3 separate regions of the Homo sapiens genome follow, and all the other regions are reported to be linked to region 1. The links are microRNA targets in miRTarBase. Many come from high-throughput screens and were not tested one by one. Region 1 holds a microRNA gene; each other region holds the end of a gene's coding sequence. Distances are from middle to middle.
Evidence for each region. Region 1 holds the annotated microRNA hsa-miR-548f-5p (UGCAAAAGUAAUCACAGUUUUU, at 1,261-1,282, opposite strand). A microRNA usually pairs through its seed, bases 2 to 8, with sites in the 3' UTR of a target mRNA and lowers its output. Matches are read on the target gene's strand: a 7mer-m8 pairs with bases 2 to 8, a 7mer-A1 pairs with bases 2 to 7 and ends in A, and an 8mer does both.

Region 2: the mRNA of DLG5 is a reported target of hsa-miR-548f-5p. Seed matches in the 3' UTR shown: 7mer-A1 at 1,925-1,931.
Region 3: miRTarBase lists MLEC as a target of hsa-miR-548f-5p. Seed matches in the 3' UTR shown: 7mer-m8 at 3,111-3,117 and 7mer-A1 at 3,119-3,125.

What each region holds. Positions count from the first base shown.
Region 1 is chr10:54,606,666-54,609,921 of GRCh38, forward strand. MIR548F1 (microRNA 548f-1) reads right to left here and starts at 1,292; the gene lies at 1,209-1,292. All of the region lies in intron 2 of PCDH15 (protocadherin related 15), which reads right to left. It overlaps LOC105378311 (a long non-coding RNA gene), which reads left to right. Exons shown (of 6, transcript NR_134503.1): 3 at 1-320.
Region 2 is chr10:77,789,417-77,792,672 of GRCh38, forward strand. It overlaps DLG5 (discs large MAGUK scaffold protein 5), which reads right to left. Exons shown (of 32, transcript NM_004747.4): 32 at 1,375-3,127. The coding sequence ends at 3,024. Among named protein-coding and RNA genes, the nearest start is that of DLG5, 140 kb to the right of the region's middle.
Region 3 is chr12:120,696,071-120,699,326 of GRCh38, forward strand. It overlaps MLEC (malectin), which reads left to right. Exons shown (of 5, transcript NM_014730.4): 5 at 246-3,256. The coding sequence ends at 475. Among named protein-coding and RNA genes, the nearest start is that of MLEC, 11 kb to the left of the region's middle.

The DNA of each region.
Region 1 (3,256 bases):
TCAACTGGAATCAGCAACCAAAAGACTAAGTGTATGTGTCTCTGTAGGCTGAAGGGTTTTCAGATATCATAAAAGATAAGAAGTCAAGCTACACTTGTTTGGAAGCATGTGGCAGAGAACACAGATTAATTGTTTAAAGGATGGCCCAAACTTAAGGCCAAGTCACATCAAACCCATCAGAAACCAAAAGTGTGGCAGAATTCCTAACAGAAGGATGAGAGAGGAAGAGCCTTATATAGATCTGTCTTCTGTTTCACATTCTGACTATTCTAAAGCTTTTAATGAAGAATTCCCTAGAGTCATAAAACAAAGGCTAAATGGTGAGTGGCTGCAAATACACATAAAAATATAGTGAATTTTTTGAAAAGATATACTAATTTCAGGTGGCTAGAAAGATTTATTAACATAAGTAATAAAGGTCTTTTAGTTGTCAAAGTAACTTATACTTAATATTTATTGCAATTTTAAAAAATTAAAATGCTAAAAATTATTTGTGAAAATGAGTTGTTTTATATGTTTACATTTAATAACAATACTTTTTACATAAAGAAAATACAATAATTAAATATATCTGAACTAGTCAAAAGATAATTATAAGATTTAAAATTGAGTTTATGTGCAATAAATGTGGTAAACAATAATGTGATATAAAATCTTCTAAATTTAATAATATTCTTGGTAGAGGATTCTGGGGCAAAAATATGATTTTCTCCATATCCCTGCCCACTACCCAATATATGATAACATGTGGCATTATTAAATATGGAAAAATATTAAAGAATGGCAGTAGACTAGAGAGAAGAGAAGGAAAGGCATACAGGAAATCCAGGTCCCTGCCCTCAGAGACCTCTCAATTCCTGGCATATGTTTATGTTTTGAACATTATGCAAATTTGTCTGCATGACAAATTTATTCTTGTTTCAGGTTAAGAGTAGAAATCAACCCATAGTCCTTACGATTAGAATTGCCTTAGCATAACGATTCAATCAGTAAGAAAATATAATAGACTAGAGGGTAATGGAGATTTTAAAATTTATATTATCTTAATATATTTATTAGAAAAAATATTAGATTGCTCAATAAATCAATGGTAACTTTAAGGCTTTTACTGTCTACTACAAAGAATTTTTATAGATATATGAAGAATGATGGTAAGGAAGAGATATGATGCCATGAGGCCTACTGTGAGCAAGACACTGCTAATCAGGCTATTAGGTTGGTCCAAAAGTAATTACAGTTTTTGTCTTTGAAAGTAATGTCAAAAACTGTGATTACTTTTGCACCAACCTAATACTTCCGCACTTTGGAAAGGCTTTGCCTACATCATTTTGGTTATTGTGAGAAGACTTGCACACATAAGGAATTTTTCAAAATAATATTTTAACTTGAAATACTTTTCTTTGACAAATACAGTAAAAGTGATAGAGCCAAAAAGAGGACTAGGCATAGCCCTGAGGGGATTTCCGAGCAAAAAAATCCCAGGGGATTTGTATGCAAACACTTCGCTCAATAAAAGGAGAGGCCAGGTGTGGTGGCTCACAACTGTAATCCCAGCACTGTGGGAGGCCGAGGTGGCTGGATTGCTTGAGCCCAGGAGTTTAGGACGAGCATGGGCAACATGACAAAAACTTATCTCTACCAAAAAAAAAAAAGAAAAAATAGCGGACATGGTGGGGTACACCTATAGTCCAGCCACTTAGAGAGGCTGATGTGGGAGAAACGCTTCAACTCGGGAGTTTGAGACCCGCCTGGGCAGTTTAGTGAAACCTCATCACTACAGATAATAATAATAATAATTATCTGGGTGTGGTGACACACGCCTATAGTTTCAGCTACTCTGGAGGCTGAGGTGGGCGGATAGATTGAACCCAGGATATCTAGGCTGCAGTGATCTGTGATCATGCCACTGCACTCCAGCCTGGGTGACAGAGACCCTCTCTTAACAAAATAAAAAATACAAAAAGGAGAAAGTCATCAAACAAAATGATGTGACTTAGTCTGGTAATATTCGTCAAGAAGTCAAGATTTATGCTCTCTTACAATTCTGACTTTCACATTGAATTAAATTAAGGGTGTCTTGGCTTGTTTAGTGTAGTTTAGTAAAATACAGTCATTTGTTTTCCACAGCTATTATATTATTCTCCATTAAAAAAAGAAGAAGAAGAAGAAATGAGAAAAAAAAATCAGTCCCTAGCTAGAAATTTTAAGAGTCAATAACATTTGGGAAATGAAAATATATTCTGAAGTAGTATAATCATACCCAAATTTTTAGACTCTGTACTCAATCTATAAGATGTATGTGAGCAAAATATTATTAGAAGCAACATGAATGATAATCACGCACTACAAGCGCACGAATAATGTTTCCCTGAAAGGTACAATAAAAAATTATTCAATGTGAAACAAAACGTTGACTGCAACAATTATTAAAATTTGACTATTGAATTGTCAGTATACTCAATTATGAAGACATTTGGAAAATATAAATGAGCACTACTGTTTTTGCTCATTTTTTAAAAATGAAAATTTTTGGTAATGTCTGACCTGAAGGCAGATATTCATTATAATAGTCAAATATCATAAATACATTTCAAATGTTATGTATTCTACATAAATTACTCAGGAGAGGAACATGTAGGCTCATAAACTTGCACACAAGTAAAGGAATGTTTCTTAGGAAAAAATTCTGTGTTAAAGATATTCCACACCAATGTCTCAGGAAAAGGCATTTGTAGTATACTGCTCCATTACCTATGCTTCATAAAAAATGCAGCTATCTAATTTAATTTAGCTCTGAACAGATTTCTTAGCAGCATAATTTATGTTTTGAGAATATCTCTTAAGAATCATAGCTTGCAATCTATGGTGCTTCAATGAAGAATAATCTGTAAACAAAATCTCCATCTATCAACAAAGGCCATTAAAGACCATAAAATAACCCATCCTTGACTGATTAATGCTGCTACTGAAAGGGATTTCAGGCTATTAACATCCAGAAAATATACTGCCACTGTGGTTGCATTTATTATAAATCACATAGTTATATGTACTGGTGTAAAGCAATGTTTTCTTAACCACCTCCCTCTCCCAAATTAATTTAATAACAAAGATACTTTGAAGAACACTAAATATCTATAGAAAGTAAATGATTCTATTTTTTTCCCTAGAGGAAATGTATGTGAAGGCAGGGCTATTTATAATACATTAGATAGCTAAATATTGGTTTAACACTTTATATGCAGTTCAATTATGTTCA
Region 2 (3,256 bases), 23 Mb from region 1:
ACCTGTAGAAAATCTGGAAATTACAGAAAAATCTAAAGAAGAAAATAAAATCACGATGGCCTAAGTGCAACTGTGAAGGTTTGGCATCACACCTGAGCTCTGTGAAAGAAACCAGCCCTAAAACCAGCAGCCACCACCCCAACCCCTACACCCCCATCTGCCCAGTCAGTGACTTAAAATCCATCGTGTTAGGCCGGGAGTGGTGGCTCATGCCTGTAATCCCAGCACTTTGGGAGGCCGAGGCAGGCAGATCACCTGAGGTCGGGAGTTTGAGACCGGCCTGACCAACATGGAGAAACCCCGTCTCTACTAAAAATACAAAATTAGCCAGGTGTGGTGGCGCACGCCTGTAATCCCAGCTACTCAGGAGGCTAAGGCAGGAGAATCACTTGAACCCAGCAGGTAGAGGCTGCAGTGAGCTGAGAGCATGCCACTGCACTCCAGACTGGGCAACGAGAGCGAAACTCCGTCTCAAAAAAAAAATATATCAACGGCTCTGCTGCCCATTCTGAGGATGGCGCAGGGTGTGGGCTGTCAAGGAGACAGAGGCAGGCCCTGTCCCTATGGACACAAGGGCCCACTCCAACTACCAGAGCCCCGCACAGCTCTGTGACACCCCGTGGCCACAGGTGAGATCAAGACTGCAGGGCCACAGTGGAACTTCACCCAGCAGGAAATGATGAGGGAGGCATCCACATCAGTCTGCCCCCACCAGCCTGGCCACCAGTGGAGTGTGAGTGAAGCTTCTGGAGAACATTCTGCCCCCAAGCCCCTCCAAGAAAAAGGATCAGAGAAGGAGGGCTCTGCTCTGCCCCAGGCCTCAACCTGGCTTCCTGCAGCTAAAGGCCCAGCCTCCCAACTTCCTCATCACCTTGCAACACGGAGTTCAGGCCCACGTGGGCTGTTCTGGGAGTCCAGCAATGCTGGGTGATCTCCCAGTGTGATGCTGTCAGGTACTACAAAGCAGCCCCCAAGCAGGTGGGGCCATTCCCAGCCAAGGGCCCCAGACAGGGCCCTGACTGAGAATGCTACCCAGAGCACTCAGCTCACTCCCTTTTGCTTTTCCCAAGCCTGCAGAATTGAATGTGAGGGCCAGAGGGCAGAATCTGGGTCTCACACAGATGGGCAGCCTGGCTGCAGTCACCAGTTCATGCCACACTGGACAGATGGGTGGCAGGGAAGGGCAGGAAGGAGTGAGAGAGAGGCTGATGCAGCGGGTAGCAGGGACTGCAAATTGTCATGTGAGACAGAAAGAACCTACACATCAGCCAACTCCAGCTACGTGCTGCAGAGGAGAAGCTGTCTCAAGTTTAGAAATACAGGAAAGCTGACTGACTAGGAAGAGATTAAAAACTCACATCTTCAAACACAGCCTTACAGAAATTGACCTTTATTTGTTGTACTAAAGCCTGTTTAACTTTTGATACAAAGTAACATTTTAGTACAGAAAATCCCAGTCTGTCAGCTCAGTACCTGTCTGTGCACACTGTACCATCTCAGTCCCACTCTGCCTGTAACTTAGAAAACAGCCCCTACCCCCAGAGGGTCTGCGAGTTAATACCTTGAGAATAGTCTACAGTTTTTCATAGTTTGTCTGAGCTAGAAAACTTGTACCTGTAAAACAAAGGACAGCATTGAGGACTGAAACTTGTCTCTTTTTTGAACAACTGTGCAAGAAAATATATCCCTTTTTAAAAAACATCAGTTATGGCTAAACTACAATCTAGTGTCTAGAATTACAAAGAATAAAATGAAATCAAAGATTTCTCGCTAGTAAAATGAAATGTTAGGAACAGTATTAAAATATAGGTCCTACCCCAACGACACTTACACAGAGCCCAGTACAGTACCTATTATTAACAGGACGCATAGCTTAAGGAGGAACCACATCAAATCTTCAGCCAGACATATCTAGCCTCAGAAGTGCAAAAAAAAAAAAAGCCCCCAAACGAAGACACCCACACTGAGTAGGGTGCATGCCGTGAGTGCTGTAATCAAGATTAAAAAGACCTCAGTTTTTCTTTTTAGACTGTTGATAGTGACAATAACCATTATGCTTCCCCTAAAAGCTCTCAATTCAATGTCTGAAACATGAATGTTTTCATATCAAAAAGAACTGATGTACCTGCCACCCTCTAAAAAGTTTAAGAATTACCCTGCAAACATTGCACTGATGAAGGCTGTCACGACTTACAGAGCCTAAGGAGGACCCAATGGCAGGCATCAGCACAGCTGAACACCACCTGGACCCCACTGCAGCCCTGCCCACGCAGCTCTCACGGAGCAGACACAGTCCTCAAGTAATAAGCACAGATGGAGGAGAAACGAGAGGCTGTGGAAGGCAGGAGAGAAAGGCCGAGAGACGAGTTTGTAAGAATGCCAAAGTCACCTTCCCCATTGTGGGAGGAAAATGCCAAAGGCACTGGTTCTGCTGCCACAGGCAGTCTGAGCACCTGGAGTTGTGACGTCCTTCCAGGAGAGGTGCCACCAAGGAGCAGGAGGTTTGTCAAAGCTCTGGTCCCACCAACAAGAACCTCCCAAAGCAAAGCAGCCCCCATTGAGGTTCCAAGGTCGTTTTGCTGAAGACGGGAACGAAACCAACACCAAAGCGACAGGGGGTTGACAGAGGGGACAGGGGCTGGGCACCGGCAACATGGAGCCGTTCAAGTAAACATAAACCACCAAATACTTAGAAAAGGCTTGTAAACGAGTGATCCGAAAGGTTCTCTTTGCAGCATCTCTGATCAGCTGGCTAAAGAAAGGTGGGTGCTGAACCCGTCTTTAGTGTTATCTGTTTTGTGTTAAAGCACACGTGTGACACGGGCAGAGTGTGTGGGCCTGGGCCTGGATCGCACGCAGCCGTGGCCCTCTGTCTACAAAGGAGGTGCTTCTGGGTCCTGGTTCCGGATCCTTCCCCCGCATGTTCATAGACGGACAGACTTCTACTTTCAGTCGCTAGAAAAGAGCTGAGTCTGGTGTCCCCTCAGGCGGCCAGCTGCAGTCATCCACAGCACAGCATTCTCCTAGAGCGGGCAGGCTGGAATCCACAGGACTTTATTTTGTTCTTGATTGACCATTGCCAAGATCTGAGTGCAAATGCTTGACAGGGCTCCTCCCTGGATGACCCCTGCAAAAGAGCCCCCCAGACACGTCATTCAGCTCAGAGTAAGACCCCAGGTTTGAGGCAAGGCAGTACAGCTTGCACTCTTTCTACTGTGTGGCTGTCTGCTTTGTGCTCCTTGGCACTCTGCTCCAT
Region 3 (3,256 bases), not on the chromosome of region 1:
AGAACAGGAAGGTAAGATAGTGAACCTCCCTATGAGCACGGCTTTTTCTACTTTCTAGTTAAATCTAAAGCTTTTGCAGCACTCTGCTGTTCTGTAGACCAGAGGCTATTTCTGCTACTTCTGGTCTTTTCTCTGGACCCGGGTTCAATCACAGCAATCTCTTTATTGTGGCTTATTTGCTGCTTTTAAGGGTCTCTCTTACTTAAATGCTGTGGGTCTTAACAGTGTTTTCTTCCTTGTGTTAGATGTACCAAAGCTTCAGCCTCATCCGGGATTGGAGAAGAAAGAAGAGGAAGAAGAAGAAGAAGAATATGATGAAGGGTCTAATCTCAAAAAACAGACCAATAAGAACCGGGTGCAGTCAGGCCCCCGCACACCCAACCCCTATGCCTCGGACAACAGCAGCCTCATGTTTCCCATCCTGGTGGCCTTCGGAGTCTTCATTCCAACCCTCTTCTGCCTCTGCCGGTTGTGAGAACAAATGACTATCCTGAACAGGGTGGAGGGGTGTGGGAAAGAAACCAGCCATATTGGTTTTGGTTTCTGTATTTTTCACAATGATTAATGAACAAAAACAAAGAGAAAAAAACACACATCAATTAAAGGAGACAAAAAGAGGCAGAGCGAGTAGAGAGCAGCCCTCATTCACCACCTGGTCCCAGACGTGCTTCAGTCCTCGTCCTCTCTTTGTGGCTGGCTCCCAGCCTTCTCTTTCCTCTTGAGGATACTTAGGGTAAACTGGATCCTTCCTGCTCAAGGATCCTCATTTGTATACCTAGTGGAAAGGACTCTGAACTCAGAGGAGTCACTGTTCCTTTTTTTAGGTTAGAAATTAACAGCAGGGAAATGCCATCTTATTACCTGAGACGACCAGCACTGGGAGTTAGGTACGGTCTGAAGTTATGTCTAGATAAGACTTCAGACGTCCTGGGATTGAAAGAATGTGTGTGAAGGGGTAGAATTTGTGCGGTAAAGACTTAAAAAAAAAAGTAGGGAGATTAAAAAAAAAGAAAGAAAATGCTTCCTTATCTGGAAGCCTTTCTGGATTAATCCAGTGATGGTCCCACCTTTAGTGTTTGAGCTTTGTCATTGCTTGTCTCCCTGGCATGTGCCAGTTATAGACTGTCCAGCATCCAAGACGTTTCGGTTATGTCGGGTCCTCAGATCGCCTCTGACTTGTTACCACAACAAATCATTTTGATTTCAGTGCCTGTTGGGGACTTGATTTCTTCTCAGTTTTGTTTGTTTGTTTGTTTCCTTAATCTGGCTCATTTGAAATTTCTTCTCCCTCTCAACCATCCCACTAAGTTATAGCCAAGAAGGGAAGGAGACACGGGGATTTGGGGTTCTCTGCTTGAATGTCTTCTCCTTTACCACCTCACCTTGTTGGTACCTCCCTCCCTGGATCTCTGAGCCAGCAGCCAGGAGGACCTGACCCAGCAGTTCTTTACTGGCCCCTTTGTAGGGCCTTGCTGCCAGGGGGCAGGGATGCTTTCCAGCCTGCAGCAACAGAACACTTGACCTTAAAAGTCTCTTCTGGTCTTTGGATTAGAAAAGGCTTATGTTAGCATAGCTTAAGAGCAACCTCAGAGATTTGAGCCCTACTAAGTGACTGACCACTGTTTAGAGTGTCTGGTATCTGATGTTCATTTATTCCCATGTTCTTGTGTGTCACAGTTCAGCCAGTTTTGGTTTATGCCTAGAGCTACTTCAAGGAACTAGACTAATTAGCTATATAGGCCCAGCGATGCTTCTTATTGATCTTAATAGTATGCCCCTCCTTCCCCTGTCCTTTCATTTCTCTATCCAAGTAGCAGTCAGGTTCTTGGTGTGATGGGACTGAAAGAATTCCAGTCAGCCAGAGCCTTGGCAGCTCTGAAGCTAACCTTAGCATCTAAGTGTCGATCTTGAATTCCCTGAAAAAATTTCTATAGGAAATGAAGCTTCCCTGGTCCCCTCCTTTCTGGCCATTGTCATCCATTTCCCAGTTAGGGCAACAATGAAGGAGGACCCAGCCAAGCTAGAAGGAATTTTGTGGATGGGAGACAGCAGGATTAGCTTCAGCTTGGGCTGGAGCAGTCAATATAGGATCTCAGGCCAGGCCCGCTTTTCTAGAATGTGTTTAATTTTGAGTTTGCTTTATTAGATATGTTTTTTAAGAGCTCTGTATATTTGAACTGCTCCTTATGTGACAAAATAGGTAGCTCTTGGGCTCATGTCCTGGGTTTTGGCTCTTTAATGATTACTCCAGGCCAGCATTTAGTCGTTTGAGAATTGTAGCCTGTTGTTTTCGCTGTGACTTGGGTCTCAGTGCTAGGGTATTGAGTCAGGCAGCTGGAGGGTTGTGGCCCGAGGCTGCAGTCAGAGGTATACTTCCCATAGTGCTTCACACAGCTCCCCTGCTTCTAAAGGATAAGGTACTGTAGCCTTGGTCCTGGGGACCACCTGCCTGGGGCAGTGGACATCCTAACTAAACAGGCTTCTGGCAGTAGCTTTGGTTCCTATCCCATCGAAATTCCCCAAAGCCCTGGGCCACTGCCATTGGGTTAGTCAAGATGAAGGAGGAGGACTGGCTGCCTCCATTTTGCCTTGTTTGTTAGTTTGCCTGGGTCTGTCTGAGGAAGGAGGGGGTCCCGCCTTCCACCTCAACACATCCCTTCAGTGACTCAGAGTCTCAGAAGGAAACCCTGACTCCTGGGGCCATTTCCTAATGGTACTGTAAGCCAAGCAGCTTTGCTTCTGCCTCTGTTTCCAAGCCCACCCTTTTCCCCTGAGCTCAGGGTTAGGGATGGGCGCTTTCCTCTCTGGTTGTGAACGAAAGGAAGGAACATCTTTCTATGGCTAACAAAAACTAAAGGGGAAGTGAGGAAACAGGAAGAAGTATGGTGGGGGCTGGGGTAGACTCCCCTGGAGCCAAGCCTATCCAGCTAACAAGAGCTCCCTGGGGCTGGTCACAGCTGGCTCATGATGCTGAACTTGAAAGTTTTTTTGTTTTTGTTTTTGTTTTGTGGCTCCTCCAAGATATAGGTACATGAAGTTTAGGTTAAAGGGGTGGGATTCTTTATTTTTATTTTTGTATTGTATGTGTCAAGAATTACTCTGTTGTTCACCTTTTGCTTTTTGCACTGTTTGTTCTCTTATCTGTATTTTGAGCTTAGTGCTAGGACTGAGAGGCTGCACCATAGGGAATGTATGGGAGATGGTGAGGGGTGCCAGTGAGGGGTGCGTGGAGGAGAGGCCTGGGCTCCTCTACTGG